Linked DNA regions of Homo sapiens. The protein of the gene in region 2 purifies or fractionates together with the protein of the main gene of each other region. This does not show direct contact. Each region holds a gene or a part of one and is shown on either strand. Other genes may lie near its edges. The genes, in order: TMEM59L, PCDHB1 and PLXNA2.

The links.
Region 1: the proteins of PCDHB1 (region 2) and TMEM59L purify together in Homo sapiens (affinity purification with mass spectrometry; one large-scale study listed by BioGRID and IntAct). This does not show direct contact.
Region 3: the proteins of PCDHB1 (region 2) and PLXNA2 purify together in Homo sapiens (affinity purification with mass spectrometry; one large-scale study listed by BioGRID and IntAct). This does not show direct contact.

Annotation. Positions count from the first base shown.
Region 1 is NC_000019.10:18,618,579-18,621,567, reverse strand, and holds the end of TMEM59L (transmembrane protein 59-like precursor), read right to left. Parts: intron 1,161-2,989; coding exon 1,032-1,160; 3' UTR 529-1,031; downstream 1-528. UniProt on the Homo sapiens protein: Modulates the O-glycosylation and complex N-glycosylation steps occurring during the Golgi maturation of APP. Inhibits APP transport to the cell surface and further shedding.
Region 2 is NC_000005.10:141,055,926-141,059,679, reverse strand, and holds the end of PCDHB1 (protocadherin beta-1 precursor), read right to left. Parts: 3' UTR 334-3,754; downstream 1-333. UniProt on the Homo sapiens protein: Potential calcium-dependent cell-adhesion protein. May be involved in the establishment and maintenance of specific neuronal connections in the brain.
Region 3 is NC_000001.11:208,216,885-208,220,538, reverse strand, and holds part of PLXNA2 (plexin-A2 precursor), read left to right. Parts: intron 1-2,536; 5' UTR 2,537-2,571; coding exon of another isoform or gene 2,572-2,616; coding exon 2,617-3,654. UniProt on the Homo sapiens protein: Coreceptor for SEMA3A and SEMA6A. Necessary for signaling by SEMA6A and class 3 semaphorins and subsequent remodeling of the cytoskeleton. Plays a role in axon guidance, invasive growth and cell migration.

The DNA.
Region 1 (2,989 bases), on a different chromosome or scaffold from region 2:
CTGTCACCCAGGCTGGAGTTCAGTGGTGCAATCATAGCTCACTGCAGCCTCCACCTCCCCGCCTCAAGCAATCCTCCCACCTCAGCCTCCCGAGTAGCTGGGACCACAGGCTCAAGCCACCACACCCAGTTAATTATATATATATATGTGTGTGTGTGTGTGTGTGTGTGTGTGTGTGTGTATTTTGTAGAGATGGGGCCTTGCTATGTTGCCCCAGGCCGGTCTGGAACTTCTGGGCTCCAGTGAATCTCCTGCCTCAGTCTCCTAAAGTGCTGGGATTACAGGCATGAGCTGCTGCGCCTGGCCTCGAGTCAGTTTTCCAGGGACATCTGTAGCTGGGAGTGTGACCTGGGTTAGACCAGAGGGAGTGTCCTTCTGAGAGGCAGCTACTTTCAGTGCCTGGTGCCACCTGGGTTTCCAGGGCTTTCCCATGTCAGAAAGATCCTGCTCGGCAGGGGTCATAGCCATGCGTGGGCCACACCCCAAGGGCAGACAGACAACCGAACAGAAGCAGGCTCAGCCTGAAACTCTTTTATATACATGGTTTATTCCTCCCCAGCCCCAGACAAGCCCCAGGCACGCTTTATAGGGGCATGGAGATGCCCACACCCTGTCTCTCAGAAGCTGGGTCTCTGGAGACCGGGATGGGGAGAAGGGGGAAGCCCTAGCAAGACGCAGCTCCCCCTCAGCCTCAGCGCCCCCCCCGCAGAGAGGGGACATAGAAGGAAAAAGGAAGGTGACACAGGACTGGGGTTCAAATACTCAGAAAGCCACACAATAGAAGACAAAAAGTAGCAAGCCCCCAAGAAAGCGGGGACAAGGAGGAACCAGTGCCCGATCCCGCCCTCTTCCCAGCTGGGGCACTGCGTCCCCAGGACTCCGTGGGGCAAGGGGTGGGACTGGGAGGAGAGGAAGGATTTGGGGGTGGAGGGGCTCAAGGCTGGACCCACCCTGCCCTTGGACTCCTGGGCTCAGGGCAAGTGAGGCCCGAGGGGCCCCCTGCAGTTGGCAGTGATGGGGCCAGTGGAGGCCTACAGCTTGGTCAGGTCCAGCTTCAGCTTGTAGGGTGGTAGGCTGTCCTCACAGGCGTGGGACGGCGGCGGGTACAGGGGCCAATCGGGCTCCATCATGAAGCCCTTGTGCTGCTCCAGGGTCAGAGGCTGCAGGAAGAGAGGGGAGGAGGGAAGTGGAGGGACGGGGAGAGGCCGAGCCCCCAACCCTGACTGTCTCCTTCCCACCTCTGATTGTTTTATTTTTTTTCTTTTTTTGAGAGAGTCTCTCTCTGTCACCCAGGCTGGAGTGCAGTGGCGCCATCTCAGCTCACTGCAACCTCCGCCTCCTAGGTTCAAGCGATTCTCCTTTCTCAGCCTCCCAAGTAGCTGGGACTACAGGTGCACGCCACCACGCCCAGCTAATTTTTGTATTATTAGTAGATATGGGGTTTCACTATGTTGGCTAGGCTGGTCTCGAACTCCTGAAGTGATCTGCCCACCTCAGCCTCCCAAAGTGCTGGAATTACAGGTGTGAGCCACCACACCTGGACTTTTGTGTGTGTGTGTGTGTGTGTGTGTGTGTGTGTGTGTGTGTGTGTGTGATGGGGTCTTCTCTGTTGTCCAGGCTGGAGTATAGTGGTGCCATCACAGCTCACTGCAGCTTCGAACTCTCAGGCTCAAGTGATCCTCCCACCTCAGCTTCCTAAGTAGCTGGGATCATAAACATGCACCTCCACGTCTAGCTAATTTTTTTTTTCTTTTTTTTTTTTTTGAGATGGAGTCTCGCTCTGTCACCCAGGCTGGAGTGCAGTGGCGCGATCTCGGCTCACTGCAAGCTCCTCCTCCTGGGTTCACGCCATTCTCCTGCCTCAGCCTCCCGAGTAGCTGGGACTACAGGCACCTGCCACCACGCCCAGCTAATTTTTTGTATTTTTAGTAGAGATGGGGTTTCACCTTGTTAGCCAGGATGGTCTCAATCTCTTGACCTCGTGATCCGCCCACCTCGGCCTCCCAAAGTGCTGGGATTACAGGCATGGGCCACCATGCCCAGCCACATCTAGCTAATTTTTAAATGATTTGTAGTGACAAGGTTTCACTATGTTGCCCAGGCTCTGGGCACCACAGAGGTGTCACCAACACACCTGGGCATGATAGAGGTGAGGCCAACACCACAGAAGTGTGGCCACCTCTGACTTCATGTCGCCCCAACTAAGAGTGGATTTTCTTCCCACCAATTCAAAGGGCAGTGAAGAAACTGGCCCAAGTCATGCAGCAAGTGTGAGGTCCTGGCTGGGTGAGGTGGCTCATGCCTGTAATCCCGGTATTCTGGGAGGGCAAGGCAGGTGGATCACTTGAGCCCAGGAGTTCAAGACCAGCCTGGGCAACATAGTCCCCATCTCTACAAAAAATACAAAAATTAGCGGGGCATGGTGGCACGTGACTGTGGTCCCAGCTACTCAGGAGGCTGAGGCAGGAGGATTGCTTGAGCCAGGGAGGCCGAGGCTGCAGTGAGCTGTGATCATGCCACTGCACTCCATCCTGGGTGAAAGAGTGAGATCCTGTCTCAAAAATATATATATAGGCCGGGCGCGGTGGGTCACGCCTGTAATCCCAGCACTTTGGGAGGCAGAGGCGGATGGATCACCTGAGGTCAGGAGTTCAAGACCAGCCTGGCCAACATGGTGAAACACCGTCTCTACTAAAAATACAAAAATTAGCTGGGTGTGGTGGCCCGCGCCCATAGTCCCAGCTACTTCGGAGGCTGAGGCAGGAGAATTGCTTGAACCCAGGAGGTGGAGGTTGCAGTGAGCCGAGATGGTGCCATTGCACTCCAGCCCAGGTGACAGAGCAAGACTCCATCTCAAAAAAAATATATATATATATATTATATATATATATATACACACACACACACACACACACACACACGTATATGTATATATATGTATATACATGAAAAAAGAAAAAAATGTCTGAGGTCCTGGCCTCCATGGGAG
Region 2 (3,754 bases):
CCAGGCTGGTCTCGAACTCCTGACCTCAGGTGATCTCCCCACCTTGGCCTCCCAAAGTGTTGGGATTACAGGTGTGAGCCACCATGCCCGGCCTGTTTCAGTGTTATATAAACACAACAAATACTTTAATAATGTTTTTTAAAAGTGTTACACATATTTGAAAATGAAGTCAGACTTTTGGTTGAAGAATGAATGTCCACTTAGTCACATACTTTGAAGATATTAAACTCTACAGAAAATAGCTATTTATATGGGATAATCATATGAATGAATTATGCTTCCAAGAATAAGACAAATTCATCCCTAAATGGAAAACAACAAAAAATGCACAAACATGATAAAGAAATTCTTTATTTTTAGGAGAATTACATAATATCAGACAGACCAATTCCATTTTTTGTATATCTGTAAGTCTAATTTCAGCATATAAGTCTATTTTTAAATAGTATCTCAGGTATATATAGCTTAAACTATATAAACATGTCTGCACAACAAATTTTAAAATTTTCAGTTTATATCTATTTTAAAATGTATGACTAATTTAAAATTATGTTAGTATAATTTTCATTTAAAGTTAAAACTTTATGCATGAACCTTAATGGGGTTACTTTATGATTGTTTAAAATAATCTAACATGTAGAGTTACAAAGAAATACTAATTTTGATAAAAATGTATTCTATATGGATAATTCCAGTCTTAAAAATCTGCTCTTCATCTCAGATAAAAGAGTTTGCTGAACAACAAAGTAAATGATAGGATTAGTTTGTAACCCAAATAATAGAGGAGATATCCAGGTATCCTTATGTAAAGAAATAACTAACTAAATAAGTGGGGGGGAAAGTAACAAGTTTTCCTTCCAGAAGAATTTTAATTAATGTAAAAGGAAATAGAGAAATAGAAAATCACCATTAGAATGCCACAATATTAATTGCCACAGGAAATATCTAGCAATGGATACTAAAATTGGTTTAAGCAGAAACATCATATTTGCATAGTTTCAAAGCATATCCCCCAAGTGTTTATTAATTACAAAGAGAAAAAAGTAACTTTATAGTAGAGAAACGTGGCAGACATTATGTTAACCAAGCGATCAAAATTAACATCACCTTAACATTACTTAAAAATGGCTAACATACTTAAAAATGGCTAACATGGTACATTTTATAAGTTCTTTACCACAATAAAAGAAAAAAGATTAATATCACCAGTAGTGTGACATTGGCATCACATACCTGCTGACGTGATGCACTGAAAAGGATACAATATCATTTCTGCAGTATTTTTCCCAATAATGCATTACCTCAGTTTAATAATGAGAAAACAAAGAATCCCAAACTGAGGGGCATTCTACAAATAACTGGCTAGTACTCTTCAAAAATCTCAAGTCATGATAGACAAGGTAAGAGTAAGGAACTGTCACAGGTGGTAGAGACTAAGGAGCCATAACAAATGCTTTGCAGGATCCTGGATTGGATCCTTGAATAGAAAAAGGACATTGGGGGAAAACTGTTAAATTTGAATAAGATCTGTAGTTTACTTCATAGAATTATACCAAGGTTAATTTCTTAATTTTGATAACTACTATGGTTATATAAGATGTTAGCATTCCGGGAAGTTAGGTGAAGGATATACAGGAACTATCTATAGTATTTTTGCAATTTTATGAGTCTAGAATTATTTCCTAATAAAAAGCCTTTTTGTACAAGACACTTTTCAAGGTTCTTAGGTTATAGCTTTGAATACATAGAAATAGTTATAATATCACTTGACACTTTGGAGAGAGTAATTGCCCTAATTATTTCCATTCTTTGTCTTAATTTGCTGATAGAGACCTGGACTTAATCTCAGCTGGTGTACAGAGTTCTCTCCAAAAACAAGTGGCCTACTTCACATTCAGTGAATTGATATATTCTTATTTTAAGTTATCAGGTAGGATTGGAATTTTCTTGGGAACTTGAAGTCTGAATAAAATTAGAGTGACAAAATTTTCACCTAAGGCAAAAATAAGAAAAATGGTGGCAAAATAATTTTTTATTAAATCGATACATTTTTTAAATTTAAAGGATGGTTTCTTTTATGAGATTGTTATCTTACCTTTTTTTTTCTTTTTTCTTTTTTTCTTTTTTTTTTTTTTTTTTGAGACAGAGTCTTGCTTTGTCGCCAGGCTGGAGTGCAGTGGCATGATCTCAGCTCACTGCAACCTCCACCTCCTGGGTGCAAGCAATTCTCCTGCCTCAGCCTCCCAAGTAGCTGGGACTACAGGCACATACCACCACACCCAGCTAATTTTTGTATTTTTAATAGAGACATGGTTTCACCATGTTGGCCAGGATGGTCTCCATCTCTTGACCTTGTGATCCATCTGCCTCAGCCTCCCAAAGTACTGGTATTACAGGTGTGAGCCACCATGCCCAGCCTATCTTAACCATTTTTATATTAAAATGCCATTTCGTTTATGGAATAATGGTGGCGTGAAGTGGTAGATTTTATCTCATTTAATGTGAAAAAATAAAAAGTTGACAAATCTACATCTTCTGTCCATTGTGTATGTGTGTATATATGTATTCATGAATTTCACTGCTATTTGAATATCAAAGTCTTAAAATCATGAATCTACACCATTTTCTTTTCCTATCCTTGACATTAAGCCAGTTTCCATTGATTATGTTCACATCATTAAGTGTAATGAAACACAGTTAATACAGTAGCTTTTACTTAAGCATGTTTTATTAACTAATTATTGCTTACCCATAAAAATTAATTCTAGGCTGGGCATGGTGCTGTAATCCTAGCACTTTGGGAGGCCAAGGCGGGTGGATCACCTGAGATCAGGAGCTCGAGACCAGCCTGGCCAACATAGCGAAATGCCAACATGGCGAAGCCCCGTCTCTACTAAAAACACAAAATTTAGCTGGGCGTGGTAATGTATACCTGTAGTCCCAGCTACTCAGGAGGCTGAGGCAGGAAGATCACTTGAACCCAGGAGACGGAGTTTGCAGTGAGCCGAGATCATGCCACTGTACTCCAGCCTGGGTGACAGAGCAAGACTTTGTCTCCAAAAAATAAATAAATAAATAAAAATTCTATCTCCTTTTTCATTTAAAGGAAATAGAAATTTCAGCATGCCTTCACCAATTGGAACACAAATACACTGGAACACTTATTCTATGTTTTGTGCAAGAAAACCTTTACTCTAAATCGGAATCATAACTCAATGTATGTAAAATATTTAATATTAAAAATAAAAGCAATTCATTGATATAGTGCATTTGCTTCATCTGTTCTTTAACATTTTAACATTGAAGGCAGCCATAGGTTACACCAGTTCTGCCCTAAGCATCTCTAACATCTAAAAAATAACAGCACTAAATTTTAGTGTATTCCTGGCCAACAGGTAAACAGCCAGGTGGTGCCATTAGGTATCAGTCATTAAGTCCAAGAATGAAGTTTGTATCAATAAACATGATTTGGTATATTTAAGAAGTATTTTAAAAGATAATGCTCTACCCTTAAAATACCAAGAGGATGTATTCTAGTGAGTCTGAATTTACACACATTTTTATAAAATAAGGAATATAATTAAAGCCTCATTAAAGCACACTTTTTTTTTTTTTGAGATGAGGTTTCACTCTTTTGCCCAGGCTGGAGTGCAGAAGTGCAATCATAGCTTACTGCACCCCTGAACTCCTGGGCTTGAGCAATCCTCCTCCTTCAGACTCCTGAGTAGCTGGGACTACAGGTATGAGCCACCAT
Region 3 (3,654 bases), on a different chromosome or scaffold from region 2:
ATCGCTTGAACCAGGGAGGCGGAGGTCTCAATGAGCTGAGATCATACCACTGCACTCCAGCCTGGGCGACAGAGCAAGACTCTGTCTCAATAATAATAATAATAACAAAAACTAACATAAGTTAAGTGCTCACTGTGTGCCTGCAACCATGCTAAGAGGTTGGTCTCTATATTGTCTCATTTACTGTCATGACAACTTGAAAGGTACATACTGTAGTTATTCCCATTCTACCAGAAAGGGACATGAGACTTGACTTGCCTCAAATCCCAAATTTGTTCCCAGATTCTGTCTAACAACAACAAAAGCCACTCACTATTCAAACTGTGTCTTGGGAGGATACCAAGCAGGGAGGTGAGGTGGCTGATCTTAACCGCATACTAAGTCCTTCCATGTTATCTCTGCTACCAGAACCCCCTTCCTCCCCTCGCGGCTCCTCAAGGAGGAACCACTCTCCACCTGGAACCCAAGGAGATTTTCTTCCCAGCGACAGGGGCAGAGAATGGCCTCTTGCAATTCCCCATCCAGCTGGAGAATTTAAGGATTCTGTTATTTCCTTTCCACAGCTCCTCTTCAGGAATTCACGTCCTGCTACCGGCCTCAGGACATAGCTAAAAATAACCTCTGGTTTCCAAACTGAAAGCCCTGTCTGTTGGGAGGCTTTGCCGGTGTGCGCCTGGGGCCGGAAGGGCTGTGTCGGAGTAGCTGAGGTCAGCCTGAGTCTCATGCCGGTGTTGCCTTCCTCTTTCCAAGGAAGCCCAGGGCCTCATGAGTCACCCCGAACACCCTGGGGGAGTCGGGTTGGAGGAGGGAGTTAGGTGGGACCTACTGTGGCACCACGGTGGCTGCCAGGCCGAGGATGCAGAACTGAACAAGAGGAAGGGTCGTTCCTAAAGAAACTCTAGGGGATTCTCTAAGTGGTGTCTGTTCTAATTATAACCCAATCCAGCCAGAATGGGGAGTTGAGGGAGAAAGGCCTCTCCTAAGCTGCCTTGGAGCAAACTCTCCATCCTTCGGGTGTTTCCATCCCTGCCACCTTATGTGCCCAGAGTTCTGTCTGGACTTGCCTGAGAAGGTTGCTGGATGATCTTCCAGCTGAGAAAAGCTTTCTCTGCCGGACAGCTCGCTGCCTTCTCCTGGTGCCGCAGTCACTTCCCACTGTCCCTCTCCATAAGTCAGGACAGTACCATGATAGTGATGGAACAGGCCCTGCTCTCTGACCTCCAGGTCCTGCTCTCTGACCTCCAGGCTCTGCTCTCTGACTTCCTGCCCCTGGCCCAGACTGCCCCTGGCTACAGGCTGTCCTCAGGAGCCCCACCTTGCCCCTCTGGGCAGCTTCCTTGGAACAGGGAAGAATAAGCACCAAGGCTCTGGAAGTGGAGGAGCCTTAAAGCCTGGGAGTCAGGAGGCAGGGGGAAGAGTAAAGGAGTCAGGGCTAGAGACTGGGCTTCGAGCATGGCCCACTGAGGCCCGCTGGTGATTTCATGGATGCTGAAACAGTCAGGAGGCCCCAGCAGTGCCTGAAATGAGACTGAATCTCACCTCACCACCCTTTGCTGCTCCCCACATTCTCCCAAATCTGGTACCCCTGCCCCAGGTGGCTGAAGCTGGACTCAGCCAGCCAGTAACCCCTAGCAAGGAGACTGGTTCTCTGTGTGTCCTGGCTTCCCATGTGCTCTGCCTGCAGAGAGGCAGAGGTTGAAGCAATTTCCCGAGGACCTGGCTACCTGGCAGCAGCTGGGCGTCCACCTTGAGAAGGATGGGGGAATCTCAAGAGATCTGCCTGTCTCCCGAGGGCTTTTCCGGCTCCGGAATGGCACATGTGGGAATCCCAGTCTTGTTGGCTACAACATTTTTCCCTTTCCTAACAAGTTCTAACAGCTGTTCTAACAGCTAGTGATCAGGGGTTCTTCTTGCTGGAGAAGAAAGGGCTGAGGGCAGAGCAGGGCACTCTCACTCAGGGTGACCAGCTCCTTGCCTCTCTGTGGATAACAGAGCATGAGAAAGTGAAGAGATGCAGCGGAGTGAGGTGATGGAAGTCTAAAATAGGAAGGAATTTTGTGTGCAATATCAGACTCTGGGAGCAGTTGACCTGGAGAGCCTGGGGGAGGGCCTGCCTAACAAGCTTTCAAAAAACAGGAGCGACTTCCACTGGGCTGGGATAAGACGTGCCGGTAGGATAGGGAAGACTGGGTTTAGTCCTAATATCAAATTGACTGGCTGGGTGAACTTCAACAGCCTTTTAACCTCTCTGGGAGATGAAAACGATGGCTTAAGGGGCCAGAAATAGAGATGCTTTGTAAAATAAAATTTTAAAAAAAGCAAGTATTTTATAGCATAAAGGCTAGAGACCAAAATAGATAACAGGATTCCCTGAACATTCCTAAGAGGGAGAAAGTATGTTAAAAATAGAAAAACCAAAATGCAGAAGGAGGAGACTCACAGAGCTAAACCAGGATGGGGACCCTGGGTCAGGCCAGCCTCTTTGCTCCTCCCGGAAATTATTTTTGGTCTGACCACTCTGCCTTGTGTTTTGCAGAATCATGTGAGGGCCAACCGGGGAAGGTGGAGCAGATGAGCACACACAGGAGCCGTCTCCTCACCGCCGCCCCTCTCAGCATGGAACAGAGGCGGCCCTGGCCCCGGGCCCTGGAGGTGGACAGCCGCTCTGTGGTCCTGCTCTCAGTGGTCTGGGTGCTGCTGGCCCCCCCAGCAGCCGGCATGCCTCAGTTCAGCACCTTCCACTCTGAGAATCGTGACTGGACCTTCAACCACTTGACCGTCCACCAAGGGACGGGGGCCGTCTATGTGGGGGCCATCAACCGGGTCTATAAGCTGACAGGCAACCTGACCATCCAGGTGGCTCATAAGACAGGGCCAGAAGAGGACAACAAGTCTTGTTACCCGCCCCTCATCGTGCAGCCCTGCAGCGAAGTGCTCACCCTCACCAACAATGTCAACAAGCTGCTCATCATTGACTACTCTGAGAACCGCCTGCTGGCCTGTGGGAGCCTCTACCAGGGGGTCTGCAAGCTGCTGCGGCTGGATGACCTCTTCATCCTGGTGGAGCCATCCCACAAGAAGGAGCACTACCTGTCCAGTGTCAACAAGACGGGCACCATGTACGGGGTGATTGTGCGCTCTGAGGGTGAGGATGGCAAGCTCTTCATCGGCACGGCTGTGGATGGGAAGCAGGATTACTTCCCGACCCTGTCCAGCCGGAAGCTGCCCCGAGACCCTGAGTCCTCAGCCATGCTCGACTATGAGCTACACAGCGATTTTGTCTCCTCTCTCATCAAGATCCCTTCAGACACCCTGGCCCTGGTCTCCCACTTTGACATCTTCTACATCTACGGCTTTGCTAGTGGGGGCTTTGTCTACTTTCTCACTGTCCAGCCCGAGACCCCTGAGGGTGTGGCCATCAACTCCGCTGGAGACCTCTTCTACACCTCACGCATCGTGCGGCTCTGCAAGGATGACCCCAAGTTCCACTCATACGTGTCCCTGCCCTTCGGCTGCACCCGGGCCGGGGTGGAATACCGCCTCCTGCAGGCTGCTTACCTGGCCAAGCCTGGGGACTCACTGGCCCAGGCCTTCAATATCACCAGCCAGGACGATGTACTCTTTGCCATCTTCTCCAAAGGGCAGAAGCAGTAT